Regions from separate parts of the Homo sapiens genome. Here regions 2, 3, 4, 5, 6 and 7 are each linked to region 1. Evidence: fine-mapped expression QTL. A gene starts in region 1. Each other region holds a variant in brackets. All regions are shown on one strand. Distances are between the middles of the regions.

Region 1 (4,218 bases):
TATTCATATTTACATATCTATGCCAGTCTGAGTTTTCAAGATACACTGATGCACCAATAGGGTGGAGAAACTGCCTTGATCTCTAGTTCCGCACAGCCCGCTGTGTTTAATCCACCCATTTCCCCAGATGGATGCGTGTAGTACCGTTACCTCTTATTTGACCATTAATCAATGAGATGGGGGGAGACTTTTTTCCCCTGATGTTTAAAGCCATTTTTTAAAACTATTAAAACACACATAGATACTATGGAATAGAGTGAAAAGCGTGAGAACATTCTTACACTAAAACGTGAGATTTAGGTTGTGGTAGTCCCCTCTCTTTCCCCATAGTTTATGGTTCTCTGCTATTAGGGGTTCAGAGAAAAAATTAGATAACCTCTTCTTTTTCTTTCTTTTTTTTTTTTTTTGAGAGTCTCACTTTGTAGCCCAGGCTGGAGTGCAGTGGCACGATCTCAGCTCACTGCATCCTTTGCCTCCCAGGAAGTTGAGATTTCAGGAAGTTCAAGCGATTCTTGTGCCTCAGCCTCCCGGGAAGTTGAGATTTCAGGTGCCTGCCACCACACCCTGCTAGTTTTTGTATTTTTAGTAGAGACGGGGTTTCACCATGTTGGTCAGGCTGGTCTCCAACTCCTGACCTCAAGTGATCCGCCCGCCTTGGCCTCCCAAAGTGCGGGAATTAAAGGCGTGAGCCACCGCGCCGGGCCTAGAGAACTTCTTTAGGTAAAGATTCTGTGTGCTGTGTGTACTCTCATTTCCGTTCACACTTTTGTATTTCTTTTTAAATACATGGGTTTTAGCTTTTTTTCTTTTAAGGGAGAAAGCCATTTCAGTAGAGTTTCTGTTAATGGAACTCAGAAGGAGTAAGTAGAAAGGGTGGCTGTGATGAAGCAGAGGTCAGCATCCCAGCTGCTCCCTTGAGGAGCCTGTCTTCACAGCAAAGGAATGAAGGACAAACTGCCATTGTCGCAGGGTCCCGCATCTATTATTTTGTGACCAGAGGACATGAGAACATTGCTAGTCTAGATGGAAAAAGCTAATCCAACAGGTGAGATTGGAGATTCAAGAGAAACTGCATGTGGGAAGGAGTGCATAAAGTCGACTATGTTTCATAGCAAATCATTTTGTCAGCACAGGGCACAATGAAATGCCATCACAGTTGCCTCATTAGTAAGCAATATCTTCCATTTTTGAAGGCACCCCAGCATGTTCTGTAATAGCTCCCATTAAGTCCAGTCGATGTCCTCTGGACTCCCCCTCCGCCTCCCACCCCCAGATGATGATGACACAAATGTCTTGAAATATTGACATGTCCGCAGTCACTCGTTTACAGAATGTCTGTACAAATATTTACATTACCCCGTCCCTCCCAGCAAATTTGCCTTTAGATTAATCTGCACACCGAACGCAGGCCGGGAGTGGCTTGGAGTGTGGAAGGGTTTAAGGGTGTGGAAGGGTTGTAGTGAGGCGGGACTGACTGACTTTGATCGGCTTTGCCAGGGGCTTGAAGGAACCGGCTCTTCCTTTCGCAGAACCCAGGTGTTTCTCTGGGCCCGGGAAGTTTTTGCTCCCGAGCGAGTCAGGGACGGGAGCAGGCACGCACAGTCGCGTAAGTGTATGAAATGACGACCTCAGAAGGGCGCCCAGGGACATGGGTTTGGCAGCCCCGAGCGGAGGCCGCCAGGCAGCCGTTCCTTTCGGAATTCGGTCTCCCGCAGTGCTCCCGGCTGCGGCGCTCCTGGGCCGAGCGCTGGAGCCGTTCTGGGCAACCCTCCCGAGCGCGGCCGGCTCACCTCCGCCGGACTGCGCGGGGCGAGGGCTCCGCTACTGCGCGCAGGCCCGCGGATGGCAACTCGGGGTTTCCACTGCGGGTGATCTCGGGACACCACGGGTTCCCACGGAGGCCGGGCCAGGGGAGAGCCCTGGCTGTGGGACCCCGCGTGACCAGGGCGCAGGGCGCCGGGTCCTTAGCCCATCTGGCGGCGCAGGGAGGGGCGCCCGGTAGGGCGGGTGCGCAGCATGAGCCCCAGCCGCTTGCCGCTCCACTCCAGCCGGGCGGACGGGCGGGAGCCGGGGGCGGGGAACCCGGAGCGCCGCCCCGCCAGCGCGCCCCGCCCGTGGGAGAGGAGGGGCTGCAGCGCAGCGGACCACTGGAGGCGCAGCACGGTCGCCGCCGCCGCTGTCGGTGCTGGAGATCGCGGCTCGGTGCAGGCGGCGCCCATGCCTCCTCTCCTCCACTAGCCCGCGCGCCAGTCCGCCTGCCGGGGCCGGCTCTCCGCCTCCTGCCTCCCGTCGCAGCCGCGCAGCCGCCGCAGAGTCCGCGGCGCCACCGCTCGCCCTCCAGGTAGGTGTCCTAGCTGCAAAGGGATTGCTTGGGGCGGGCGCCAAGGTGCCCGCATCGCGGCCCGGGGGCATTGTGCGCCTCCGGCGGGCCGAGGACCCCGAGGGACGCGTGGGTGGGCAGCCGCAGCTTCGGGTCCCCAGGACATCGCCGTCCCCCTGGAGGCGCCCCCGGCCGATAGCCCGGGCTACAGGGAAGTGGGGGCGGCGGTGTCAGCCCATTCTCGCGGCCGGGATGGGAGGGGGCGTCTGTATCGCGGTCCCGGTTTGCCGCCCTCCCTCCCCCTCGTTGCCAGGGAATTCCGGCCGCCTGCCACTAGCGCTCGCATTCCCTCGCGCGGGCCGGCGCCCCTGCTCCCCGCAGGCTGCCTGGGGATTGAAGCAGGGGCAGGGAGAAGGACTGATGTAATTGTCAGCGGAAAACCGAACCGGCGCGGGTGAGAGCGCCCGCGCCCGCGAGAGCTAACGCCTACGCCGCACCTTTCAGGGAATCGGGGAAGCCGAGAGGAGCGGCTGGGGAAGTTGTGCATTGGGTTTTATTGTGCGCGTGCACTGCGGACTGCCCTCGCGGGGCACCCCTGCCCACCCGCTGCTGGCGCCCCTGCAGCCCTCCCGGCAGCCTCCGTCCACTCCCCCGGCCAGGGCCAAGTCTGCCTTCCCTGGTTCAGACCGGGACAGCGTTTGCATTGCAGTCAAGACGTGCTTCCCCTGCATCAAGCCGGGAGCTGCCCGCAGATCGTGTCGCCGGGGATGCTGGGGGAGGAGGGAATGGGAGACCTGAGGAGAAAGCCTGGAGAAGTAATGACACAAGCGGATTTTCTCCCCAAAGCTTCTGCTGCGTATAGACACATCTGCAAGGCACCTTTTAAGCTGTTTTTGAAAGTTATAACCAGATACTGATTTTGTGACAATTCTATGATATACCTGAACGGTTGCTTAAACATAGAGACCTAAAGCTAGGGGAAGCATTACATAATGGACATGAAGCAAATGACACGAAACTAAGTGAACCCACTGGGTTGCCAGATTATTTCTCTCTTCTGGACACAAAATCCTGTAAGGTTTTTTCTATAGGAACTTTCATTTTTAAATTGCTGGGCTAAGTTTAGCCAATTGTCTATTATATTCAGTTGTGATTTTTTTTTTCTAAATAATTTTCTTGGACATCTTTTCTTAAATTTAAAAATTGCATACTAATGGTTACATATCACTAAGCTGATTAGGAAATGTAGTCTTCACAAGGTAAAAATAAGAAATTTCCCATCTTAATACATTAACTTTGTTTTCCTCTTGTTTTGTTTTTGTTTCTTTTCCTTCTTTCATCCTTCCCCCCGCCCCCAACCCCCGCTTTATTTTTTGGAAACATTTCTACAGTTTTGGGTACTGCAAGCTCACAACGTTGATATTTCTATCACATGCTACAGCATTGCGGAGACAAAGACTAATAATAAATGAAACAGAAGACCTCGCAGTAACTCTGAGAGTTAGCAGGGTTCCCAAGGTCGAAGGGAAGCTGCAGTGTAATTCAGCAATAATCACCTACAGAGAATATGCATAGCCCTCATTGGGAAAGGCCCTGATTGGTGGATTTTATTATTATTATTCTTTTGCAGTAGGAGTTCATATATTTTTTCCCTAAAAAATAATTTTTCTTAAGGTAAAAATGAAATATTTTGAAATTAAAATTTCAGGCTTTTAGAAAGCCTAAAAATTCTGGTTTTGCTCATATTTTTGGATGCAATGTTGATAACGCCATTATACATTCAGTGGATGGATTACCTTTGGCGGTACCTCAGTTTCAGATTACTATGACTTGTCAGGTGACTCTTGGCTTTAGTATGAGGTAGTTCTGCTGGACTTTTATAGGATCACATATGTAAG
Region 2 (4,468 bases), 300 kb after region 1:
GTGCACATGTACCCTAAAACTTAAAGTATAATAATGATTAAAAAAAAAAAAAAGCTAATCACAGAAGGACATATAGTCTATGATTCCACTTATATGAAATACCCAGGGCAGTCATACTTATACAGACAGAAAATAGAATGTTGGTTTCCAGGGCCCAGGGGGAGGTGGAAACAGGGTTAGTGTTTAGTGGGTACAGACCTTCAGCTGGGGAAGATGAAGACGTTCTGGAGATGGATGGTGGTGATGATTTTACAAATACGAATGTACTTAATGGCACATTTTGAAGTGAATACTTAAAAGTGGTTAAAATAGTAAATTTTATGTTTATGTATACTTTACCACAGTTTTTTTTAAAAAGGAGAAAGAATAGGCTTAAATATGAGCAGGAATTGATTTAGGTTAGATTAAATGCGCAGATAGAGCTGCTTTGTCCATTCTGGCAAAAGTGGCTTTGTGGCTAGGACCAGAGAGCAAGACCACTGGGGCCTGGCCCAGGGAGTGTGGAGAAGCACCAGAAATTTACTCTATGAATTTTCCTCCTCTGTAGCTTATACTTCTAGTTTAAAAGGTATTGGCTTGTGAGTGGCTGAGATTATGGCTGGATGTTTAGTTTGTCTGGACATACTAAGGAAGAAAGTATGCTCTTAATAAAAAATTTTGAAAATAGTATAATGTGAGAATGAAACTGAAAGAAACAGAAGAAAATAAATGAATGTTTATAAACAATAGTTTTAATTACATAAAAATTTAAAACTTCTGTAAGCCAAAATAAAGAAAACTGAAAGGAAGCTAACAGATCTGGATAAGGTATTTGCAGTATATAAGATAGAGGAAAGATTACTATCTTTAATTTGTAAGAACTTTTACAAACTATCAGTTTATATTGTTAAGAGAAAAACCAACATCAGAACTGGAAAAAATGTATAAAGGACAAAATAAAAAAGCAATTCACAAAAGAAAACCAAGCACTTTTTAAATGGAAGATGAGTAATGGAATGGAAATATCCTGTATAAAACATCCAGTGGTCATCATCCTATCTCTGGAAATCACCTAAACATGGCAGGCATATAACTGTCAGCTTTTTCCCAATTATCTGAAGAGAAGATGTTTCCTTAGGGCTCTTGTATCCTGTTTCCAAGGTCTCACATTTCTTGAGCTATAGGTATTTATATTCATTGCTTTTTTAAATGATTACATTTTGTTACATTGCTCAAAGAATATGAAAATGATCTAACTGTATATTTATGTATATTCTTTTCAGAAATAAGTGAAACCAGTGAATCGCTGAAAACCAAAATGTCTGAACTTCGCCTCTACTGTGACCTCTTAATGCAGCAAGTTCATACAATACAGGAATTTGTTCACCATGATGAGAATCATTCATCTCCTAGTGCAGAGGTAGAGCGAAGAGGATCTCTTCACGTGTGGTTATGCTTTGGAGTACTCTGGGGGGATCCTCAGTCATTCCATAAGATGACAGGCATTTTCACATTGAGTTATTTTCAGCTTTTCTGGGTTCTGCCTACTGTATACTATCTGGAAATCTGTAGCATCTTCTCGATTGTGTCTGTGTGGCCAGAGAAGAACATGAAGTAGCATATTTCTCCAGGGGTCAAGGCTTGTCTTTGCAGCCAGTCTGATAATTTGGAGGTTGGAGTGGGGAAGAAGCATTCCAGGCTTTGTTCTCCAGGCTAGCGGCATAAATTCACTGGACAGCTGCTATTCTCTTTTTTTGGTAATAAGGTCCCTGCTTCAACTATGAGAGTTGATAACTTATCTTTATGAAATAACTTAAAACAAATCCTTCTCAGAACAGTGACTTAGGAATCAAAACTCAGATTAGTAGGATCGGGCTATAATAGGCTCATTCTTCATGGTAAAATAGGACCAGTGAGCTATACC[ACT/A]CTCTGGGTGAAAGGCCAGCATGTTGCCTGTCCCTTTTTGCCTAACTTGGTAGAAGTGGGGCAAGAAATCTTCCTATTTCTTCTGTGGCCTTCTCCTGTTGGGGAGGAATCTTGTGTAAGAAGCCCAAGGACAAACTGACCACAAGCTCCCTGGAGGTAGTTGACCTCACACTTGCTACAGCAGCTCAGTGACAGTATTAGGGACCCAGGCTTGTTCCATCCTTCCACTCTGCCATTCTTGGTGTGTTGAGTTTTTCTCCTAATGCCCCAGGTGTCAAGATGACTGTCAAGCTCACAAAGAGGCAGGAGGCAGTGGGGTTGCCAGGGTAGAGAGAGTCCTTCTCAACTTGCTGTGCTTGGTTTTGAATCGGGAAACAAAAATCCCAGAAATTCCCTAGCCAACTTCTCATCTTTTTTTTTTTTTTTTTTTTCCGGCTCAAAGGAAACTAGGAAAAAATGAGCATTTAGTAAAGAGTGTTGGAATAGCCATGACTAGGTTAGATCAGTCTCTATTCATCCCCCAGGATCAGGGCACTTTGCGATCCTGAACAAAATTGGGCTTTTTACTCTATCAAGGAAGAAGTGGGAGAATGGATAGAGGGTAGGCATGAATTGTACTGCCACTAATTAACTCTAAGGGTATTCCATGTCTGTGTCCACTTTTGGGAAAGTGAAAATTACTGTTTAGGTTAGATTTCTCTAAGATAAACTTTTGTACACAGTTTTTCAATATGATAATTAAATGCAAAGCTTATTTTTTCTTAGAATCTAGTTTCATACATTGTTTAGGAGACAGGCATTTCTTATACATAGATGTTTTAATGTTTTCTTTTTTCTTTTTTTGCCCCAGCTTAATTTTCTAAGGTACTGTATTTTAAATAAATTTGAACATAACATAGTAATGTGTCTGTTGGAGATGTCTTATTATTTAATGATAAGGTTGTATATGATTCCATGTAGTTGTATGCAAATCTGTTCAAGTCTTTGTGTAATTTTTCAGAACATGAATGAAGCCTCTTCTCTGCTTAGTGCCACGTGTAACACATTCATCACAACGCTTGAGGAATGTGTGAAGATAGCCAATGCCAAGTTTAAACCTGAGATGTTTCAACTGCACCATCCGGATCCCTTAGTTTCTCCTGTGTCACCTTCTCCTGTTCAAATGGTTTGAACTTCTTGTTTTGGTTTTTTCCCTCAGTAGTAATGTTGCATGTGGTTTTCGTTTCATTTTGGTATTTATTTTTAAGGGTGGAAGCAGGCAGTTGGGGGGCGGGGAACAGCTAACAAGTTGAATTTTTTTGTTTGTACTGTTTCATATTCGAGCTTCTTAGCTGATGAGCTGAGCACTTGTGCTAGTGTCCTCATTCCCTTCTCCTTGGAGGGGCTGTGCATGGCCTGCCCACAGGCTGCTTCATCCATTTTCCCCAGTGTCTAGGAAAATATTACAAAGTGCTGTGACAAAGAAAAAGTTGGGGAGCTCTATTCTGCTTGGTAAGAATTACACAATGGAATGAGATTTTAGTCACAATGGGGTACAATTACGTATATCTTTAAAGGAGTTAGAAGGAATTTGAAACATATTCCGGTGGGAACGGTATTCTCTACTAAGCATTTGGATCTGAACCCTCAGAGTAGCTGATCTTCAGTTTCTTCATGTGTAAAAATACAGTGTATATCAGAGAGTCACTGCAAACGATCTGACCTGCTTACTGTTAGGTGCTCAGTGTTAGTTTCTTACTTCCTTATTGCTCAGAACAAGTCCTCTTTTTGCCAGGGGTGGCAGATTCGTTGTCCTTTCTGAGCTAATAAATTTGCTCTAGCATGCTGTTAGAAATTTGTAGGTGAGATAAGCTTTAATGAGACTTCAAGTTTATTGCATCAAAGTGTTTTTAGGAGTCCATTTATAGGAGTAAGAATGCCACCTTGTTGCTGTTTCAGCAATTACCTGAAGATCTATTTGTTAGGAGAATAGGGTCTAACTTCTTCCTAGGTTCTCTTACCTATCCCAGCAAATTTAGTTATGAGATTTAGTAAAGATTATTGCCTAGATTTATTTAGAGAATTGTTTTCTAATCAGTATTTGATGGGCTAATAGTTTCCTCTGAGGCAAGCGTACCATGAAAATGAGTTTTATGGCCAGATTAATTTGGGAATTGCTAGGTTAACTTAAATGATATGAATTGGGTTTGATGGGACTTGTCACAGCCTTTTTACTTATTTATTTATTTATTTTTTTAGAGACAGGGTCTCACTCTGTTACCCAGGCTGGAGTGCAGTGACACCATCATAACTCACTGCAGCCTCAAACTCCCAAGTTCCAGCCTCCTGAGTAGCTGGGACTACAGGTGCACACCACGGTGCCTGGCTATGTTTTTTAATTTATTATTTGTAGAGATGGGGGGGGTCTCATTTTGTTGCCCAAGCTGGTCTCAAACTCCTGGCTTCAAGCTAAGTTTTTAAATTTATTTTTTGTAGAGATGGAGTCTCATTTTGTTGCCCAGGCTGGTCTCAAACTCCTAGCTTCAAGCAGTCCTCCTGCTTCAGCCTCCCAAAGTGTTGGGAT
Region 3 (4,468 bases), 40 kb after region 1:
TTCTTGTTGAAATTTCCATGTCTTTGATAATCATCTTAGGGGTTCTTAAACTGTACTCCTATGCCATAGAAACTAGACACAGGTGTTTTGCTGCTCAGATCCATAAACTGGGTAAAACAATAATATCTTTTCTCACTTAGCCAAAATAATATTATAGCTTTCCTCTATTTGAAGCTTTTCCTATACATTTTTCTTAAACATTTGCTATATTTTGCTGCTTATTCTAGAATCTGGTCTAAGATAATGAAGATATATTTTTATAACATCTTAAAGGTATATTTTAACTTTAAATTTAATATATCAATTATTGCTTTTTTTCTTTTTTGACCCTCATCCTCTGACTCTCAAATTATGTTTCTCATGAGTACCTTGACTTCCAGGAAGTAAACAAGTTTGGAAATTACTAATCCCAGAGACATAGGGCACCAAGGTTAAAGAGAGGGGAAGGCTCTGGACTCAAAAGTGCTTGTCCCAGCTGTGGTTCAACCAGCAGCATGATCTTGGATAAGCTATTGAACCTATCTGAGCCTCAATTTCTTCATATGTAAGATGGGATAATAGAACCTGTACTATAAGGTAGTCGTGATGGCTAAATCAAAAGGTGAGTAGAACACTGTCACACTTCACAAAATAATCATTAGCTGCTATTATTATTCCTTTATAGAGGAGGAAACAGTTACCTAGCTCATTACTCTTAGCATTTAAGTAACATGTTACATTTTGCTTATTGTTTTTACTGTCTTGAAATCACATGCTGTTTTTTTTTTTCTTATTACCAGAATATTGAGGTTTCTACTCAGCCCAGTACTTTATTCTGGTAACAGCTCCCAATTGGTCTTTCAAAAGCAGTACCCCAGAAATATCCCTCGCAGTACCTTTCCATTCTGTGTAGTGGGGGTAGGACCTGTTACTGGGCCTCAGATGTACTCGTGTATACGCTGAACTCCTGTCTCTGAGAAACACTTCAGAATAACTCAGAACACCTGACTCTTTTAAAACTTTCAGATAATTTGTAATTGCAACCGACACTGGATATCAAGCAATTATACAAAGCTAATTCCTGATGGCCTGAGTAGAAACACCCCATGGTGTACTGCCTAGATGGTAATTATTTTTGTAATATTGGGAACTTTACATTCTTATTTTCTACTTGTTACAATTCTTCAAGTACCTTCAAAACAGCTGATTCAAGAAACCTGTTCGATATTCTGAGGGCAGAAATGGGAAGTGGAGTTTTTTCAGGCTTGGATAGGTTTGGAATTTGCTTCTTCCCCTTTAAAAAAGAATCCTTGAATTTGCTTCAGAAATGAAATACACAGTAAAGGTGAAGTTAGAAATCGGGTGGCAACCAACTTCCAATGCTGAATATCTAATTCCTGCGAACCAGCCTTGCTCTCTGAAAACTGTGGCCATTTTCATGGGTTTTACTTGGCCTTATTTTATTATGGCTGCATCCTCTGTGTTTGCTGAGGCTTCTCAACCATCTGAGAGTAGGACCCCTTCATTTCTGGCAGTTCTGCTTTCAATGCTATTTCATCCAGAATTACTGGGGATATTATTACTTTAGTCATTGAAATGTTTAGTGTCAGATTAAAAATCTCATCAGACGTCAGTGTCTTTGATTTCACTCACATGACTCAGAGCATCATCCTGGGGATCCCTCAGCCTCTGGAAATGTTAAGGAGGTGATGACACATGGGCAGGGAGGGAGATTTCAGTCGATGTTCAGTACCTGGAGGCTGAACTTTGGCATCAGAAGGGATCTGGCCATGGACAGGCTATTTAATCTCACTATTTTTTGAGTCTTTAGTGACAGTACCCACCTCATGCGTTGTTGTGAATGTTAAGCTGATCTACTTAGGATGATGAGCTTAGCACAGTATCTGGCACATGATAATTCTTCTATAAGCACTAGTAATTATCATTAGTAATATTATTCACAGTAGACACAATTCTAGAGACACTGAAAATACTCTTGCCTCATGCTTTACATATTGAGACAGTAATAGTTCTCTAGTGGCAGTTTTTTTTTCTCAAGAGTTGAATAATTTACTTTATTCAGCTATTTAATAATACTAATCATATAGTCTTAAAGACTGAATGTTCACTCAGTATTACATTAATAGGAAGAAAATGGAAATATTTTCATAACAGTTCTTAATGCTAATTACCATATATGTCTGAAGTCATATCATTTACTCAATTTCTATGGTACCTGTCATAATAATACTTTAGAAAATGAAATAGTAATAATAATGACAACAACATCAACTTTTGCAGTTGAATCTGAATGAATATGGAGTTGGAGAGAATATCTGTCCAATTCAGGTTGTCATCATTAAATATTTCACAGGTTGTGAGTTGCCAACCTTTGCTGGACTTAAGCCCTTTAGAATAAAATGTATTTCAGGCCGCAGTATAACCTACCGGCTTGTTACCAGTGAGAGAGAGAGAGAGACAGAGAGAGAGAGTCATTTTTAAAAAATACTTTTTGTTTTAAGATAATTATAGATTCACAGGAAGTTGCCCAAAAATGTACAGGGAGGTACTGTGTACATTTC[A/G]CTGTTTCCCCCAAAGGTAACATCTTACAAAACTATAGTACAGTATCAAAACCCTGACATAGACATTAGTACAATCCACAGAGCTTATTCAAATATGTAAACATTTTCTCCCCGTCTGTAACTGGTCTTTTCATCCTCTTCATGGGATCTTTTGTAGAGCAAAGGTTTTTAATTTTGGTAAGGTCCAATTTATCCATTTTTCCTTTTATGATCTAGGGTAGTTTTTCTCAAAGGCTTTTCCAGACAGTACCTGCTTTTGGAATCATTTGTAGTACCTATTACGAAACCCATTTGCTTGGGCCCCACACCAAACACTCTGAATCAGATTCAAGGAATGGAGTCTGGTAGTCATTTAAGAAGCTCCCTAAAACCTGGGAACCACTGTTTCAGAGAGATTGGCCTTGGGTCCTTTTTCTTCTTGTTCTGCCTTGTCTGTGAATCATGCCACTCACTCTTACCACCTTATCAAATATGTTTGGATAACTTCTAAATTTATCTTGTTAACCTCTGTGATGAGCTCCAGAATAGGTACTTTGCCGGATACTCTTCTGTTATACAAAGAACATACTTAATAAATGGGTTATTTGTTAGGTATTACTTTTCTGGATCCCTTTGAACAGTATGCAGTAGAATATATATAACAAAAACCTTCCCAGTTAATGTTCATAAATTGTCAAAGAGGCAAGACATTGGTCCTGATGCATGAATTACTTAATTATAGAATACTTTGGTGGAGGGGTTGAGTTATACATATATAATCTTGGGGTTAATGGTTTTTTTGTGGTCTTATTTGTATCTCTTCTTCCTTTCATTGAAACAGATATTTTTATACAATTTCTTTTTTTTTTCCTTTTTCTTTCTTTCCTTTTTCTTTTCTTTTCTTTTTTTTTTTTTTTTTTTTTTTTTTGAGACAAAGTCTCGCTGTGTCACCCAGGCTGGAGTGCGGTGGTGCAATCCTGGCTCACTGCAACCTCTGCCTCCTGGGTTCAAGCAATTCTCCTGCCTCAGCCTCCCGAGTAGCTGGGACTACAGGCATGTGCCACTACGCCCGGCTAATTTTTTGTATTTTTAGAAGAGATGGGGTTTCATCATGTTAGCCAGGATGGACTCAATCTTCTGACCTCGTGATCTGCCTGCCTTGGCCTCCCAAAGTGCTGGGATTATAGGCGTGAGCCACTGCACCTGGCATTTTATACAATTTCTATTTGGAAAAAGATGCACAGTGCTTGATAAGTATCAATATGCCTATGGCTTAACAATCTAATTTTTAGATGGTTTGGTTCCTCTTTTTAAAATTTTCAAGTATTTTTCATTAGCATAAAGAACTATTCCTTGGGTGTCTTTAATGAAAAATGACCTTTTCATAGCTGGATATTTTATTTGATGTTGGAATGTAATCAGAATATGAAAATGTCAATTTTTGTTTTATTTTTACGTTAGATTCAGGAGGTACATGTGCAGGCTTGTTACATGGGTTCAATTTTTAAATGTCTCAATTTTATATCACTTGTTTTAACAAGTTAGACTTTTTTTTTACAAGTTGTATTCTCATTTTATATGTTCTCTGCAACCATTGCTTCTGTTTAATCCTTGTTTCTAGTTGCTACAGTCTCTTAAAAATTAAATTATCCCTTTAAGATGATAGAACATGCTTATGCTAAAGGTAGCAGCTAAAATGATGATGAAATACTCTTATATCTTAATCCTGAAAAAAAAATTATAAGTTTAGTGAGTAGTGCTTAATGATGTTTTTGTCTTAGTTCAATTAATTAGAGTTCAGTAGCCAAGAAAAGAAAGCTAATTTTGCCTTGGATGTAAAGTTTGGATTTCACTTTTTACCACAGTGGAGTGGTCAAAGAATTCACAATGTCCATCCTGTAATTATAATATGCTACTGTATCATGATA
Region 4 (4,468 bases), 96 kb after region 1:
GGCTGTGCCCCAGGCCAGCTCTCGCCTGTGCATTCATTGTCCATCACAATCTGGTTTGTGAGGTTTTAGAAAAATGAGTCGCCCAAACACCTGAAAGATTTAGACCAGTTCTGAAAAATAAATTGTACCTTGAATACATATCCAGTAAAAGTATGTATAACTGTATAAGTAACTAAGTGGGGGAAAAAAAGGAGTATACTGTTCATATCAAGGTTTTCATATATAAATAGTAGGGAAAAGGGACTTTTTTTTTTTTTTTAAATTTTTTGAGAGGGAGTTTCGCTCTTGTTGCCTAGGCTGGAATGCAGTGGCGCGATCTCAGCTCACTACAACCTCTGCCTCCCGAGTTCATGTGATTCTCCTGCCTCAGCCTCCCAAGTAGTTGGGATTACAGGCGCCCGCCACCACGCCCAGCTAATTTTTTATATTTTCAGTAGACACGGGGTTTCACCATGTTGGCCAGGCTGGTCTTGAACTCCTGACCTCAAGTGATCCACCCGCCTTGGCCTCCTGAAGTGCTGGGATTACAGGTGTGAGCCACCGTGCCCGGCCAGGGACGTTTTTTCTTTATTAAGACTTTTTTCTTCTGTTGATTTTTGTTTTCTTTTTCTTTTTCTTCTTTTTTTTTTTTTTTTTTTGAGACAGAGTCTCGCTCTGTCACCTAGGCTGGAGTAGAGTGGTGCAATATTGGCTCCCTGCAACCTCTGCCTTCTGGGCTTAAGCGATTCTCCTGGCTCACCCTCCCGAGTAGCTGGGACTACAGATGCGTGCCACCACACCCAGCTAATTTTTGTATTTTTAGTAGAGATGGGGTTTCACCATATTGGCCAGGCTGGTCTCAAAGTCGTGACCTCATGATCCACCCGCCTCGGCCTCCCAGAGTGCTGGGATTACAGGCGTGAGCTACTGTGCCCAGCCAGTTTTTGTTTTCTATATTTTAAAAATACATTTCATTTGAAAAAATTTCAAACTTAGGCTTTTGTATAAGAATAGCATAATGAACAACCATACGCACACACTCAGATTCATCTATCTCCTTCTCCATTTATCAGAAGTCATTAGAAGTAGACATCATGTCATATCCACCCCTGCATTTTCCAGTAGGCATATTTTAATATGCACATTTTCCTACAGAACCATATTGCCATGTCACACCTAACAATATGAATGATACTTCTTTGGTATCATTTACTACTCATTCCATATTCAAATTTCCCTGATTGTCTCAAAATTCTCTTTTAATAGTTGGTTTATTTGAACCAGATCTGAAGAAGTGCATACATTTCATTTGGCTATTGAGTCTCATAAAACTCTTATCTAGAATATTCCCTTTCTTTTCTCAAGTCATTCACTTGTTGAAGTTAAGCCACTTTGGGAATAGAACTTTCCACATACTAGGTTTGGCTGATTGTTGTTACTTAACTTTTTTCTCTATTACTCAGATTTACTAGAACTTGGAAGTTAGATCAAGAGGCTTGATTGGATTCAGATCTAACTATTCTGGCAAGAATTCTGCTTCCTTTTGCTGTGTACTTTACGTAGTGCCACCTCAGGAGGCACATATGGTCTAGTTACCCCACTTTTAGTGATGCTGTCATTGGACCGTGTTTCGGGGAAGAACATCCTGATCCCCCTGTTCTAAAGTTACCCCATCCGTTTTTTTCACTTCATGATTTTGTCAGCCAATAATCATTGCCTGAATACATTATGTCATTAGGGGTTATAAAAATGGTGACCCCCACCCCATCCTATTATTCCTTCTACATTTGTTAGCTGTCATTCTTTTATAAAGAACTTCCATCATCAACTAGTATTTGGTGGCCCTGAAATACAGTTCATATAGGAAGGGCAGGGTGATTGCTTAATATTTCCCTAGTAATTGACAATATCAGAGTTGGTGCTATAGTTTCTTCAAAAGGTGATATTTCTGCTTTTTAG[C/T]GAGAAACTTCCCTTTTTTCTTGAGAATCATTGTAAATTCAAGGATTTAAAAAAATATTTGTTATGTTTCACATACTTAATTGTAGTGGTTTTTTTTTTTTTTTTTCATTTTGATGCTCAAACAAAACCTTCTTTGTTCATTATGAGCCCTTTCAACCTGGCTCCTGTGTATACGTATAGAAAAGAGAACCTATCATATGTGAATCACAGTGAATTTGCACATACTGGACACACCTATATAATCAGCACCCAGACCAAGATACAGAACATCCCCAAAGCATCCCTGGTCCTATTAATTTCTTTGACTCTACTTTTTGATACAACAGGTTGCCCCAAATTCTTTTTGTGCATTCCATACCCCAGTCTAAGAATCAGCCATTCTAAGCAGCCTGGTTCTTTTTAATAGGAAACAGAATTTAGAAACTATAGTCAGGCACTAGGGGTGCTCATTTCCATGGGTTGTCAGTGTTTCCATGCCTTTTCAGGAAACAAGGTGGGAAATACATGTGTCCAAAAAGAAAAAAAAAATGATGAGTTCATGCTGATTTTCCTGAGTTAACTTTATGGAGTCTTAATTTTTTAATTTTATATTTGTATCTTTTTTCTTTTACATTGAAACCATTGGTTCAAAACAGCATTATAAATGTATTTACTTTATCCTTTGGGCACACAAAATAGTTTCAAATTAATAATTTCAGCATGAAAACTACTAATTATTGTTATATTTTTATGTAGAGAAAATCTTACAGAATAAAGAGTTAACTATGAGGTGTTTTTTTTTTTACCTTTTATTATCACTATTATTTTTAGTCATTCAAAATTTCTGTATGAAGACAGAAGATGAATTTTTCTCCCCAACTCCATTTTTAGTATTAATGTTGATATGTTTCTTGGCAGTGATATTCAGTCTATTAAATCTTTAGTTCACCAGATTATCTGAGTTATTTGCAACTCACTGCATCATACGCAGGTGTTCCAGGAGTGACAGTGGGATGATTGTACATTTTGGATGGTAGATCAGTGTGTGCCATATTGAATGGCTTTGTTAGTGTCCACTGTTCATCATCATGCAGGTCCAGAAACAAAGGAAAGATAAACACTCTAAATAAAGCAGAGAGACTGAAGGTGTTCCAGTGTTTTTATTTTATTGCTTCTTCTTTTTATTGCTTCCTTTTATTTGATAAATGGATACTTACGGTACTTGTTTTGGAATGGTTTTCTCTTCTTTGGTTTGTCAAGTGACCAAGTGCATTGTTTCCTGGACACATTTTGTTATATCTGACCCGTGGAGAATGTTAGTGTTCATAGAAAATATAGGAACAGGTAGTCTCTTCCTTCCTTCCTTCCTTCCTTCCTTCCTTCCTTCCTTCTTTCCTCCCTCCCTCCCTCCCTCCTTCCTTTCTTTCCTTCCTTCCTCCCTTTTTCCTTTCCTCCTTCCCTGTTTTCCTTCCTGCCTGCCATCCATCCATCCATCCATCCATCCATCCATCCATTCATCCTTGATGTCTTTTTCCTACAACCAGTTAATTCCTTGAACCTGAATCTCAGAGGTAGGCAATGGAAGGGAAGATGGAGATCTAGACCATTCCCCCTTTTGTCTTTTAAACTTTCATTTTTGACTTTTATTTTAGGTTCAGGGGTACATATACAGGTTTTTTATATAGGTAAACTCATGTCATGGGGGTTTGTTGTACAGATTATTTCATCACCCAGATTAAGCCTAGTACCCCTTAGTCATTTTTCCTGATCCTCTCCCTCCTCCTCCCATCCCCCACCCTCCAGTAAACTTTTTTTTCCCCGAAACTCAATGATTGGTACAGGACCTTCCAGTAAACTTTTAACCCGTCTTCTCAAAATATCTTGTTCCCAAATGACCATAAAATTGAAATCCAACATTTGTGAATTATTTTTCAAATATGTTTTACATACAGAAGAATGATTAATATTTTAATAAGTCTAACTTTGATGGTAATTTAAAATTTTACTTTATTCACTTTGCATATCAAATGATTAATGACAGGAACTACTGTTGCAGTGAACCAACAACACAAATCTCCTTTGAAAGGTTTGGCTTTCCAAGCAACAATTCTAAACTTTGCTCTTGGAAGAAATGACTACAAAGATGAAGGAAAAACACACACGCTCCCCAAAACTTCAACTGTATATGGCTGGTGCTAGTTATTTAAAGGTTTAACGTTTTAGAACTAAGAGTCATCTAAATAGATGTCTTTTATCATGTGTCTTACATCATCCCCTCTATATCTCAAGTGTTTGGTCATTCAGACAGGCTTTAATTCATCCATCCATCCATTCATTCATCCAGCAAAGTCTATTGAGTGTCCACTCAGTATCCTCCAGGCACTGTTATGGGCCCTGGGGTTATAACAAGGAGAGCAGGAAACAAGACAGATGAGGTCTCTGGAGACAGACAGTAAGCCAGTACACAGATAATATAAATACTGCGTGAGATAAGAGCTATGAAGGAAATGAAAAGAGTATTGTTCTAGAAAGTGACAAGGTGTGTGCCTAT
Region 5 (4,468 bases), 430 kb after region 1:
TTAAGATAAATAGATTATCAGTTTTCTTGTTGTTCCTTCACACAGGTGTCCTTAAGAAAAACTATGATCCTGAGTTTTTCTGAAAGCAACCAACAAGACTTCATAGTGTGAAGAAGAACCAAGGTGGCAGACACAAATATAAACAAACCCCAAAAGCAAGAACAATCTTACCAATTACTGTTAAGTTAGCTGCTGTGATACTATTATCAGTTATTAAAAACAATGGGATCATATAAGTTTAGAGCTATAGTGAGCCTTAGACATTATGCAGACTAACTTCTTGGATGTGTAAACTAAGGCTCAGACTTGAAGAAACTTGCCAATGGTAGTTAATAGCAACAGGAGGTACTTAGTTGAAAGAAATATAATTGCTGATATTTGACTTTCTGATCTAAGAAAACAGCACTTTCATATGGTTCAAACTAATATCTAAATCTCCTGATTGTGAGTCCAGTGTTTTTCAAGTAATAGTAAATTAATAATACTAAAAAGAGAGCAATTAAAGTCAAGAATACATTTTATACTACAATTATCTTTAAAAGTAAAGTGGTGACCAGAGAAGTTGTGACTAACTTTTTTTTTTCCATTTTGGCTAGACCAAAAGTAAATATAAAGTTATTTGACAGTACAAGATGACAGGTATACAGTCACAGACCTTAGCATTTTCTCGGGAAAGTTCACACTCAAATCGAGCCATTTCTTTTTCTCTAACTTGAAGGTCGGTGAGTGGTCTTAAGAATTCCACATGAGGAGCTGTAAGAGAATGTCATCAGAATTCAAAATGAGGTTTCTGGAAATTTACTCTGACATTACCATAGTATACATTAAGAAAAAGTGACTCTTTTTTAGGGATTTTCCATCTTAATAGACTACAACTGACTTTGAAATCACTTGAAGCTGCCCATCAGGTATGATGCTTTGCTTTTTAGATATCTCTTTAGTTTACATAAAATTATGTGGCATTCTATATGTTCAACTAGTGTGCATGTGTGTGTGTACAGTATATATACTAGGGAGCCATCTCAGTTCTTTTGAATAATAGCTGGAGGAAAAATCTTCATTTGCACTGCACCAGACTTGAAAGATAATGTCAAAGGAAACTTCAGACACCAGTGGCAAAGAAACATTGTCTTATTTAAGGCACTTAGCACAATCTTTGAGAAATTAGCAGAATTCAAAGATAGAACACGTGAAGCACTATGGCCAGCCTTGTGTATGGCTAAGAGGCATGAGGCTGTAATTGAAACATACATTTAGCTTTTTAAAAAAATCAGCTTTGAAGACGTCACATATAAGTCAGGCATAACATCTATTAGTGCAATAAAGCAATGTGTTTTGTATGGGAGGGTGATTAGGATTTTACATCTGTTATTTCATTCATCTGTAGAATTAATTCAGCTGGTGTATAGGATTAGGGAGCTGCCCCCTTGCCCTTCCTTCTTTCAGAGCTCCCTGTGAGTCCTTCCCAAGATGACCATTCTTGAGCAATAAGATTCTGAGACAAATGCTGTCTAATAGGTTTGAAAATATGCTCCTTGCAGCTGAGCCTTCTTGGAGTGAAGGTAGATGTCAAGGTGAAGAAGGAGACCCAAGAAGCTACTTTGACATAAGCTTGAGCAGAGCAACCACAAAGTGGTAAGAAAAACATGGTACAAGATGCATGAAGCACAGAGTCACTAGGTTGTAGCTGTTGACAGATGGGAAGCAACCAAACCAAACAAACAAATATTGCACAAAAAATTTGCAGAAAAATGTCATCACTGGACAAAGGAATGAATGAAACAAATAAGCTAGTATGTGGCATTTTGAAAAAAGACATTACATTTTTCACCAGAGGAAGAAGTAATGTTAAAAACCATTAGAGTTCTCTTCATTCAAAGAGTCCAGGACTCAAAAGATCCAGGGCCTCACTCCATCTTCTTATCCATTCTTATTCTCAGAGATTGAATCATGTGAATGTGCTTTGTCATATTACAGCAGATCTCTAGTATGCT[C/T]CTATTCAGACTGAAATTTCATGCTCATTTTCTAGTTGTTCCCCACACCTGAAAATTCATTTTCCTTCCACATGGAAATCACTTTTACTTTGTTTTTAAAATTAGGACTCCCTACTTATCTTTAAAATTCAGTTTCTCCTCATCCATATCAGGATATCCATACAGTAGGCTGACCCCATGTAGACAAAGAGCACATCTACTCACTACTCAGTGAGAGAAAAGAAGCATAGGGAAAAGTGATTGCTCCATCATTAATCAGACCAGACATAGAATAAGACTTTTCTTTTCTTTTTTTCTTTAAACACATAAAGGATCAGGTTAGGTCAGTGTCAATACTAGAAGTTGCCAAGAAATGCAGTTAGGCCAAGAAGGGCATGCAAAAAGTGTTGTGTTGTTTTGTTGTTGTAGTTATTAAAGAATTGCAAATGAAAAGTCCTTTGTAAGAAGAATACTTACGCACGACATTCAGGTTACAGGAAGTCTTAAAATCCTTAGCATCACAAGTGTATGTTTTAATATCCTCTGGGGTACAGTCATGTATAACAAGTTTTCTGACCCTGCCATCAGCAACAATTTCATACTTCTTGCTTTTGAGGATTTCTGTCCCATTTTTGAACCATTTCACCTTAGCATTTTCTCTGGAGACTTCACACTCCAGCACTGCAGTGGCTCCCTCTTCGACCGTCTGGTCCTCAAGAGGCTTAGTGAATTCAACTGGGGGTTCTGAAAGAATCATACTCATTAGCCAAGGTACTCCTTTCCTTCTCCAAGAGTTTTGGTACCTTCTCAACTTTCCCCTGCCATCTCCAGGGCTTTGTTCTGTCCTAAGTTTTATTTTCAAGTTTTGATTACACTCAGACATTTTCCTCTAAAAATGATATTTTATCATTATTTGTACAGACAAGAGGAAAATCATTTTTAAAAACTAGGAAACATTAAGGAAATAACAGCCAACTCTTGGTTAATAAAGTGATGGATACCTAGCTTGATAATAATTCTTCCTCCAGCTGGCTTTTGAAAATCTAGGATGTGCAATAAAAACAATAGAGATGGAAGGAGGAAGTAAAACCTATGCTAGTCAATTTTGGCTCTTTAAAAAGATAGTCTGTGAATTATTTTGTTATGCTAAAAAGTAAAATCAGACTTTTGATTATTTGGTTGATTTTAAACATCTATAGTACTCATCATATAAAGATAATTGAGAGTTGGCATTGTTCATGAGCCTCTGCCTTATACATGTTTTTAAAATAAGCCTTGTAATTACCTTTCACAAAGAGGTTGGCGTGAGTTTTGAAATCTTTTGCTGTTAGTTGGACTTCCCCAGCATCTTCTAACTTTACATCCCTCAGAGTAAGTGTATGAACTTTTCCTTCTGAACGTGGGACCACCTAGTTGTTTTTAAAAAAAGAATACATGAAACAGCAATCTAGTATATGGGTGCATTTAATTCATTTAGATAAAAATAAATGGAAATAGAGCTTTCCAAGTTGTTTTATAATCATCTATTTAGCACGTATGCATTCAAAAATCATTTCAACCAATAGTTTGGGATCTTTTTTTTAAATTTATTTATTATTATTATACTTTAAGTTTTAGGGTACATGTGCACAATGTGCAGGTTAGTTACATATGTATACATGTGCCATGCTGGTGCCCTGCACCCACTAACTCATCATCTAGCATTGGGTATAAGGACTATAAATCATGCTGCTGTAAAGACACATGCACACGTATGTTTATTGTGGCATTATTCACAATAGCAAAGACTTGGAACCAACCCAAATGTCCAACAATGATAGACCGGATTAAGAAAATGTGGCACATATACACCATGGAATACTATGCAGTTTGGGATCTTTCAAGAAAATTTTAGGGTTTCATAGTTACCTTTATATAATTACTAGGTGGCCTTTCACATTGAAATTGCCCAGGCCAGTTTCTGTTTACATTTGTGGTCTTTTTTGCATATGCGTAGATATACAGCACATATAGTATATACGTATATGTGTATATATATGTGTGCCCCCATTCTGCCCCTGGGCTTATATACATATAAAGGAAGAACTTAGAAAAGCGAATTCATGAAAGGATGAAAGAAAATATCAGCTATGGCAAGCTAAAAGTAAACCTTATGTTCTGTATGTAAGGTGTTTGCCATGCAACAACAAGCTATAACTCTTCTTCCCATTTATTTTAGCAATTAAACTTATTTTGCAAACCAATTAAACCTGTGATTAAATAATTTGTACAACCTATTAATTTTGTTCAAAACTGCAAATGAAAGTTGGACTCTTCTTCCTTTTTCATGTGTCTAAGCATCAGGAATGGGAAAATCAGATGTCAATGGTGCGACAGATAGGGGTCATTCTGACAGCAAAGATAAGAGACTTGGGGGTTCTTCCAGTTCTATGATATAAAATTCCTAAGAAGCTGTGCCCTGTCATCCAGACTGATTTTGCACTGCTTAAGAGTTT
Region 6 (4,468 bases), 36 kb before region 1:
AACAGCACAGGAAAGACCCAGCCCCATGATTCAATCATCTCCCACCAGGTCCCTCCCACAACACATGGGAATTATGGAACCTACAAGATGAGATTTGGGTGGGGACACAGAGCCAAACCATATCAACAACATAGCAAGAACCTGTCTCTACAAAAATAATTTTTTAGAAATTAGACAGGTGTGGTAGTGCATACCTGTAGTCCCTGCTACTCAGAAGGCTAAAGTGAGAGGATTGCTTGAACCCAGGAGGTTCAAGGCTGCAGTGAGCTATGCTGGAGCCACTGTACGCCAGCCTGGGTAACAAAGAGGGACTGTGTCTCCAAAAATAAAAAATAACAGAGCTCAGAGAAATGGCTGATTTCAGGATTAGGGCAGAGGAAATACAAGATTAACCTGGAACATCTTACTAGGCTAGAAAGTAAGAAGTGCCCCCCAAAATTGTGCAAGCATCAAGTCAAAATGACTCAGAAGTCAGCTTGAAGGGTACACCACTAGATAAATCTGGAACAATTTGAGCATCAAAGTAAATAATAGTAATAAATTGATTAAAGCATAAATCTATGAGTTCAGTCATATAAATAAATAAATAAATTGATACTTAGTGGAGAATGAGATATTTACATAGCCTCAAAGTATGTCCTGCAAAATATTTATGAATAAAAAAAGGGAAATGAGGTTAATTTATAATAGAGGAGCCTAGAAGATACCATTTTAATCAGATAATCAAAGTGAACATCTCAGTAATAAAACAAATTGAAAATGTAGACCCTCTGATAGAATGCAATGAGAACACAGCATTGCTTCGGTGAGATTCTTGCCAAAGAAGCATAACCTTATCATAAGATAATATCAGACAAAGCTAAACTGGGGAACATTATAAAAATTAATGACCTATAATCTTCTAAAGTGTCAGGGTCCTGAAAGTCAAGGAAAGACAGGAATGGTTCCAGATTGAAGACAACTAAAGAGATGAACTAAATGCAGTACTTGATTTTGGACTGGATTATTTTATTATAAATTACATTGGAACATTTGACAAAACTTGAACATGGTCTAAGGATTAGATCATAGCAATGTGCTGATGTTAACTCCCTGATCTTGAGTAACTGTGTTCTGGTTAAATAGGAGAATATCCTTGTCTATAGGAAAATATACACTAAAGTATAGGGGTAATACAGCATCAGGTCAGCAACTTACTCTCAAACTGTTCAAGTAACAAAAGTTCTTTGTCCTCTTTCTGTAAGTTTTCTGTATGTTTAACATGGCTTCAAAATGCAAATTGTTCTTCACAAAAATGCAAAACTAAACGTACATTAAGTTACAGCAGACTCTCACAGATATTTGTCACATAATGCCATTTTCCTTGGTCACAGGTTTAGCTACAGAACGATATCTTGCCAGTCTTTCACATGAGAAAAACTAGTTATCGAAGACAATTGTCTATAAAAACTTTAATAATACCATATTTATTTTTTTGTTGGGAAGGGGGACAATTTGCAAGACAGAACAAGGATATTCATTTATTAAACAAATTTTATTAAACATACATTAAGTTTTGTGGTAGGTACAAGTTTTCTTTCTGTGGTGGTCACTGTGATGCACTGCTCAGATTCCCCCTTCAGGACTCAAGGTTTTATTCCCCAAGCAGCAAGGAATGCTGTGGACAAGGCAGCCCTCAGCTGTCAGTTCCTTTCAGGAATTTCCTCAGTTGAAGAGAGATTCCTTGCCTAAGGTGACAGTCCCTTTCTGGGGTGGTCTACATCCAATCACTGGTCAATGCAGAGGTATAAAGGCCTAGCC[C/G]TGTTGCCCCAATTCAAGGCATCTTTGATAGGTCATCCCTGCTTCAGAACATCCCAGAGGGCTAAGGGTTTCATTGAGAATCCATCAATCCATCACGGCTCCACTTCTCCCTCTGCCAGTCCCTTCCGTTTCCTTGCCTTTCCTGTCCTAGGTGATGATCCTTGGAGCATGCCTAATGAACCTCCTGCCTGCTCATCTCTGACTCACAGTCTGCCTCTCCGAAAGCCTACCTGTGCCATCTCGGTAACTGGTTTCTCTCTGGAGTTACAAAGGACTATTATTTTTCAACTTTCTGACTATTAAATACGGCTATAATTTATAACATTAAAATTTTATGAGCTTCTCTTTGCCTGCTCCACTTTCCCTCTCTTGATCAAACAGCATGAAGTGGAAAGATATAGACGCTGAGAATGGGAACAGAAAAAGCCTAAGAGGAAGCCAGAGTCTGTCTTGGGAAGGCAAGTTAAGGTGTAGGACAAGTTTGTCTGGTCCACCACCCTTTTCTTTGCTATTTTCTCCCTCTTTCAACCCCTGCCTCCTAGTGATCCCTGTGTTCCATGCATTCATATTGCATGGCTCCTCCCTTCTCAGAAGAGTAACTCATCCCTACTGGAGCTGACTTGCCTTACTTAGTCAATTCCAGCTTCTATAACAGACTACAATAAACTGGGCAGCTTCAACAATAGATATTTATTTCTCACAGTTCTGGAGCCTGGGAAGTCCAAGATAAAAGTGCTGGCAGATCTAGTGTCTAGAGAGGACACACTTCCTGGTTTGCAGATGGCCATCTTCTCCACGTATCCTCCTATGGCAGGGAGCAGAGAAAGAAGAGGAAGGGGATGTGGGGAAACAGAAAAAGAGAGAACAAGCTCTTCTCCTTAAAAAGGCACTAATCCTGCTCCACCCTCAGGACCTAATTACTTCCCAAAGACCCCACCTCCAAATACTATCACTTTGGGGGTTAGGATTTCACCATATGAGTTTTTCAGGGGACATAAACATTTAGTTCATAACAGGATGTAATGTATCATTCTCCTTAAAGAGTTTGCAGTAGAAAGAAACTTTTTTTTTCTTTTTTTAAGGCTTATTCCATTCAAAACATACCCAGAGATTGGTGGAAGGAAGATAATGAATCTGTTGGCATTAGTAAGATAGATGGTTTTGGTACTCTCCTGAATCATCCATGTAGGCAGTTGTCTTCTTCATTTACACATCAATTGAAGTTCTCTTATAATAAGTCCTTGGGGGAAATATCTGGGAAAAGCTAGTATTTGGAACTATTCCTATTTGAAAAATTGCTATAAATCCTTTACCCCAGGCATTAGCAGATTAAATCATTTTTTGCAGAAACAGACTGAGATTTAATTCTTATGACACAAATTAGCTCTGTTTTGTTTGTTAACATCTATTTTTATCAGACCATAGGCAATAGAAATCAACGTTTAAGTTAAGAAAACTGTATCTGTAGGGATGTCAGATTTAAAATTCTGCCTAATTAGGTAGTCCTGGATATTACTAATTTTTTTTTGCTTTTTCAAGTAATATAAGTGTGATATGCTATCAGTATTATGAAACAAACACCCTTTTTCCATTTTTTCCTTCTACTGAGAAAAATATTTTTTAAATGTTACAGCTTAATGCTTCAGGATCTTGTCTAAACAGAAACATTAAGCATGTTGATTTGTGTTTTCCTAATTATCTCCTTTCTATTTTTAAAGTTGGCCCTTTATCAGGCATTTTTCAGTCTTTCCACACGTGCCCTTGTTTTTTGACAAGATGTCAAAGTGATAGCAAATGGTTCCACCATGGTAAGGAGCTTCCTGTGTGCTGTTGATGAGCTGAGATGGCGCACTGCACTGTACCCTGAATAACAGAGCAAGACTCCATCTCAAAACAACAAAAAACAAACAAACAAACAAACAGAATGCAATTCATTCAGATAAAGAGACTTAGAAACCACAGATCAATTTTGGCCTGTACAGGTGACTAAATTGCCTTTCAGAAAGGTTGTACCAGATGATATTCCCATAGCAGTGTATAAGAGTAGCTGTTTTCATGTCTTCGCTAACACTGAATTTTATAATTATTCACAATCTTTGGTGAATGACAAAAAAACCCACAATATTTCATTTGTCCCAATTAAAAATTATTTATTGCATTTCCTCATTATGTAACTCAGTAATGTTCATTACAGAAAAATAGCAAATCAAAGATTTTAAAAAGTAACCATAACACAAAGGCCAACAGATAATCAGCATTAACACATTCTTTGTATACATAGACATTCTCTGTTATGACTTTTACTTTTGATGTCATGCTTACATTTGATATATTTTTACCTAGATTTTCTTCTAATGATTATAAAAATGTATTTAATTTAATCTAAAAATTTTTAATTGAAAATCATACTAACATAAAATTCACCATCTTAACTATTTTTAAGTGTACAGTTCAGTAGTGTTAAGGATATTCACACGGTTGTGCAACCAATCTCCACAACCTCTGTCTTACAAAAATGAAACTCTATGTCCATTAAACAAAAATTCCCTATTTCCCTCTCACTCCAGCCCTCAACCACTACCCTTCTACTTTCTGTTTCTATGAACCTGACTACTCTATATATTTCATATGTAAGTGATATAAGTGGAATCATACAGTGTCTGTCTGT
Region 7 (4,000 bases), 130 kb after region 1:
TACAACCGGGCGTGGTGGCACGCACCTGTAATCCCAACTACTCTGGAGGCTGAGGCAGGAGAATCTCTTGAACCCGGGAGGCGGAGGTTGTAGTGAGCTGAGATTGTGTCACTGCACTCCAGCCTGGCGATGGAGCAAGACTCTGTCTCAAAAATAATAATAATAATTCCAAGATAAAGCTGGAAGGTAATTGATTGCTGAAGGACTGTTCTCTGCAAATTAGCACTAAAAAATTCCACACATTTTTGACTGGCTTCAGTGTGCAGATTGTTGTGCTAGGATGGGGTGGATTACGGGTAGAGAAGATGGAATTCCAGGATGAAGATGAGCTTGTCCCCACCTTCAAGGAGCACTCAATCTAGCTAGAGGCCAGGACTGGGTATGGTCAGTTTAAACTGTCTTCTTTATAGCTGCTGGTGTAAAAAAATACAACATTCAATTACTTAGATATTTCATTTAAAATAACAAATTGCTTGGTATATAATTACATAACTTTAGGGTTATGCTTTTTTTAAAACCATGAGTTTGGAGAAAATTCAAGGTAGTGGATTAATTTTTTATTATTGAATAGACAATGATAGGTTCTAGACTCGTGAGTTTCTACAAGAGCTGTTGGCTTCTTCATTGTCATCCTGGAGGTTACATGGAATAGCTTATTTTTTGAAGCTAGTTACAATTACAATAATGGGTAGCAGCTGGTAGTTTTCTAAATTGTCCTTTAACTTTTTCAGTAACAAATACATACATTAGTGATAATAAAAATATTCATTTACTTGCTATGTCTCACTAAATGTTTTTTATGATTCTCTGGGCTTTGACAAATCAACAGAATTTAGGGTTTAGATATATTGTGCTATATTTGAAGTGATTGAACTTCTTATTTTTCTTCCATAATATAAACTGTTTTGTAACATCAAATGGAGAAGAGACTAATATTGTTTTCTTTGTGCTAGGTACTGTGGTAGGTATTTTACAGTTGTGGGTCCTGGTTTGTGTGGTTGCTAACTAACCCTTCTGACCCACATAATTCTGGCAACATCTTAAGTATCCCCTCGTATCTATACAGGAAAAATTTATTTCCATCACACTTCAAATATACCACATTGATTTCTATATCTATGGCTTGACTTGGAAGTTAGGGGATTTAATTTCCTTTCCCTAGCTTAGTTACTTTATTTCCTGCCTACATAGTTACTAAGGTCAAGTTTCTTTCCAGGTTTTGTTTTTCTTACCACGTTTTTTTGGAGGTGGGGGAAACAGTTGGTGATGTATCTGTGTTTTATTGCCCAGCAACCTGAAAGGATGGGGATCGGGGAGAGTCGTTAAAGAGAAGCTCAGATCAGAGATACCTGACTGGAAGATTAAAGTAAGCAAAAGCAGTAGCCACATGAAACAAGGTTAATATGTGGGCTTACAAAGAAGTCCTAACCATGATTTGGTCTTTTGTATGATAAGAACTCTTTCTAGAATATAAGCATCATAAGAGTAGTTCTCTTGTCTGTTTTGTTCTCTGTGGCCCTGTCATCTGTGCCTGGCAAAGTGTAGGTGCCTAATAATGACATGTTGATAAATTGAACTATGAATGAATAAATAACGTATTTCACTGGTAGTTTCTGGTCTTGTACTTTATTATATTTATTTGAATGAAGTTTTTTGTTGATATTCTATTAAATAGTGAGGGAGAAACTTGCTACTAAAGTGTGTAATTTCTAAATGGTTATTTCAAAAATTACGTTGGAAACTTCTTTTCCTATGGAAAATTATCTCAAAGTATAAGGTAATTTATTTGTTGGTGGGGGAAGCATTTTATATCTCTGTAATACAGTGACACTTGTATCTTTGATCTTTACAGTGACACTCGTATCTTTGATCTTTATTAGCCATGGTTCTTTTTTAGAAAAATCACCTCATGCATTTAAAAAAAAAAAAAAAAAACCTTTAAAAAAAATCTTTGTAGTCTTTACAGTAGGGAAGTTTCGCTCTCATGTATTTGAAGAGTGCATGAAACAAGATTTGTTTCCTTCTTTTATGCTTTCATAATGTGCCAAGATAGTGAAGTATTCTTAATGAGTAGATTTATGTAATTTAGGTTAAGGCATGTACTTTTTTTCCCCCGCAAGGGCTTTAATATAATTGCAAAATTCCGCTTTAGAAAGATCATATCTAATTTATATTTTCTTTCTTCCAACCCCACTTCATTCTTGAATCTGATGGGTAAAAGAAATTATTATTTTGATTCTCTTTTTGAATACTTCTAAGTTAGAACATCTTTTCAAATGTTTTACATGTGTTAACTATTCGTGTACTTCACCCATTTTTCTGT[T/C]GAAATTTTATCTTGCTAATATATAAATGCTCTTTGTAAAAGACACCTACCGTTTATGGTATTTGGTGAATTGTTTTCTTCTCTGTGCGTTTTTGTAAGAAACTTTAGAGACTGAAGGGTGTGAAGGCTCTGGATTTTTATTTATTTATTTATTTTTGTGATGGAGTTTCCTTCTTGTTGCCCAGGCTAGAGTGCATTGTGCAATCTTGGCTCACTGCAACCTCCGTCTCCCAGGTTCAAGCGATTCTCTTGCTTCAGCTTCCCAAGTAGCTGGAATTGCAGGCTTCCATCACCATGCCGGGCTAATTTTTGTATTTTTAATAGAGACAGGGTTTCACCAAGTTGGCCAGGCTGGTCTCAAACTCCTGACCTCAAGTGATCCGTCTGCCCCAGCCTCCCAAAGTGCTGAGATTACAAGCATGAGCCACCATGCCTGGCCGCCACTGGATTTTTTAAGGTAGACCTTTCTTTTTGTCTGTTGCTATTCCCAGTTGGAGAGATGAGCAAATATTTCTATGTAAGCCTGATTAGTCTAAGTAGAAGGTGTGTCTTTGTCATAAAGTTGTAAGTTTTCTTGTGTGTATCATAAAATTTTTCGAGAGATATTCCTCTGACTCTCCAAGACTGAAACCGGCACTGCAGCAGCAGTTCAGCAGCAAATCTAGAAGAGGAGGGGAAAATCCTGTGCCGACATATTTTTCTGTCTGTTGCTGCTATCTTTGGTCTTTTCAGGAACTTGCCATTTTTAACATAGCTCACTGTTTTGACTGTGTTGTGTATGATTTCATCCCCATGCACATTCACATGAAAAGTGAGTTGTCTAACCCTGGGCTATGTTTTCATTTATTTTCAGAGTATTCACATACTGGAGAGGACTGCTTCCTCTAGCACCGAGCCCTCTGTAAGTCGGCAATTGCTAGAACCGGAGCCAGTCCCCCTCTCCAAGGTCAGTGATGAAATGCGGTGCTTTCTCTGCTGGCATGATGCCTGCTCTGGGGCCAATTGAACTGTGAATAACGTTTACACCTGACTCCCCTAAAATACTTGTGATGCCACTTGTAGGCAACTCTTTGCACTTTTTCTGCTTCCAAGGAGTAGAGTTTCTCTGCCCTTTATAAGAGAGAACAGAGAATGTATACTTTGCTGGGATTTGTAGGGTTACATTCAAAGGTCCAAAATTCTGTTTAAGGGAAGAAGGAAAAAGAAGCTATTGCCTTCCCTGTTGGAGATAAACAAATATTTCTATGCCCAGCTAATGGAAAAGAAAAAAAACTGCATCCAGCAATAAAAATAATAACAGCTACCATTATTGCCCATGTACTGCATCACCGGACACTATGAGAAGTATTTAAATCTATTATCCCATTTAATATAGTTCTCATAAACAGCTCCACACAGTGTAGGTATTTATCACATTTTACAAATATGGAAACTGAGAGTTAATAACTTGCCCATAGTAAAAACATAAATAAATAAGTAAATAAGCTATCAAGGATTATAGCAGAGCAAGAATTCAAACTTAGACTTGTCCAACTCCACAACCAATGCTTGTCAGCTCTTCCCAAGCTGCAAGGTAAAATAGAACCTATGCGGAGGGACTGTTGTATATTCTGGCTTCTAGGCTCCTTCTCACATCTGGCCTTCCTAGCAATGAGCTCGTGAGAGAACACTGCAGAT

Alleles and levels. Alleles are on the strand shown, and positions count from the first base shown. SD is a standard deviation of normalised expression in the study named. Not every link is listed here.
For the expression in sigmoid colon of the gene that starts at base 2,179 in region 1, allele T in region 4 goes with a higher level than allele C (small effect, 0.33 SD a copy in GTEx).
With allele C in place of T in region 5, the expression in cerebral cortex of the gene that starts at base 2,179 in region 1 is lower (small effect, 0.37 SD a copy in GTEx).

What was found. PIP is the estimated chance that this variant, and not a neighbour inherited with it, causes the effect.
Region 2: its variant is the best candidate, but not a certain one, in a credible set for the expression of OSBPL6 in putamen (GTEx, PIP 0.85).
Region 3: its variant is the best candidate, but not a certain one, in a credible set for the expression of OSBPL6 in whole blood (TOPMed, PIP 0.81).
Region 4: its variant is the best candidate, but not a certain one, in a credible set for the expression of OSBPL6 in sigmoid colon (GTEx, PIP 0.85).
Region 5: its variant is the best candidate, but not a certain one, in a credible set for the expression of OSBPL6 in cerebral cortex (GTEx, PIP 0.58).
Region 6: its variant is the best candidate, but not a certain one, in a credible set for the expression of OSBPL6 in tibial nerve (GTEx, PIP 0.55).
Region 7: its variant is the best candidate, but not a certain one, in a credible set for the expression of OSBPL6 in lung (TOPMed, PIP 0.67).

Annotation. Positions count from the first base shown.
Region 1 is chr2:178,192,334-178,196,551 of GRCh38, forward strand. It overlaps OSBPL6 (oxysterol binding protein like 6), which reads left to right and starts at 2,179. Exons shown (of 25, transcript NM_032523.4): 1 at 2,179-2,341. RefSeq lists silencers at 1,733-2,422, 2,869-3,163.
Region 2 is chr2:178,492,591-178,497,058 of GRCh38, forward strand. PLEKHA3 (pleckstrin homology domain containing A3) reads left to right here. Exons shown (of 8, transcript NM_019091.4): 4 at 1,263-1,399; 5 at 2,906-3,070. Among named protein-coding and RNA genes, the nearest start is that of PLEKHA3, 14 kb to the left of the region's middle. The variant ACT/A (reference allele first, on the strand shown) is at 1,904.
Region 3 is chr2:178,231,957-178,236,424 of GRCh38, forward strand. The region is part of intron 1 of OSBPL6 (oxysterol binding protein like 6); the gene reads left to right. Among named protein-coding and RNA genes, the nearest start is that of OSBPL6, 40 kb to the left of the region's middle. The variant A/G (reference allele first, on the strand shown) is at 2,562.
Region 4 is chr2:178,288,398-178,292,865 of GRCh38, forward strand. All of the region lies in intron 2 of OSBPL6 (oxysterol binding protein like 6), which reads left to right. Among named protein-coding and RNA genes, the nearest start is that of OSBPL6, 96 kb to the left of the region's middle. The variant C/T (reference allele first, on the strand shown) is at 1,939.
Region 5 is chr2:178,622,015-178,626,482 of GRCh38, forward strand. It overlaps TTN (titin), which reads right to left. Exons shown (of 363, transcript NM_001267550.2): 241 at 3,259-3,382; 242 at 2,451-2,717; 243 at 656-753. Among named protein-coding and RNA genes, the nearest start is that of TTN-AS1, 100 kb to the left of the region's middle. RefSeq lists an enhancer at 1-235. The variant C/T (reference allele first, on the strand shown) is at 1,995.
Region 6 is chr2:178,155,792-178,160,259 of GRCh38, forward strand. No RefSeq gene overlaps it. Among named protein-coding and RNA genes, the nearest start is that of OSBPL6, 36 kb to the right of the region's middle. The variant C/G (reference allele first, on the strand shown) is at 1,801.
Region 7 is chr2:178,321,001-178,325,000 of GRCh38, forward strand. It overlaps OSBPL6 (oxysterol binding protein like 6), which reads left to right. Exons shown (of 25, transcript NM_032523.4): 4 at 3,177-3,269. Among named protein-coding and RNA genes, the nearest start is that of CHROMR, 91 kb to the right of the region's middle. The variant T/C (reference allele first, on the strand shown) is at 2,324.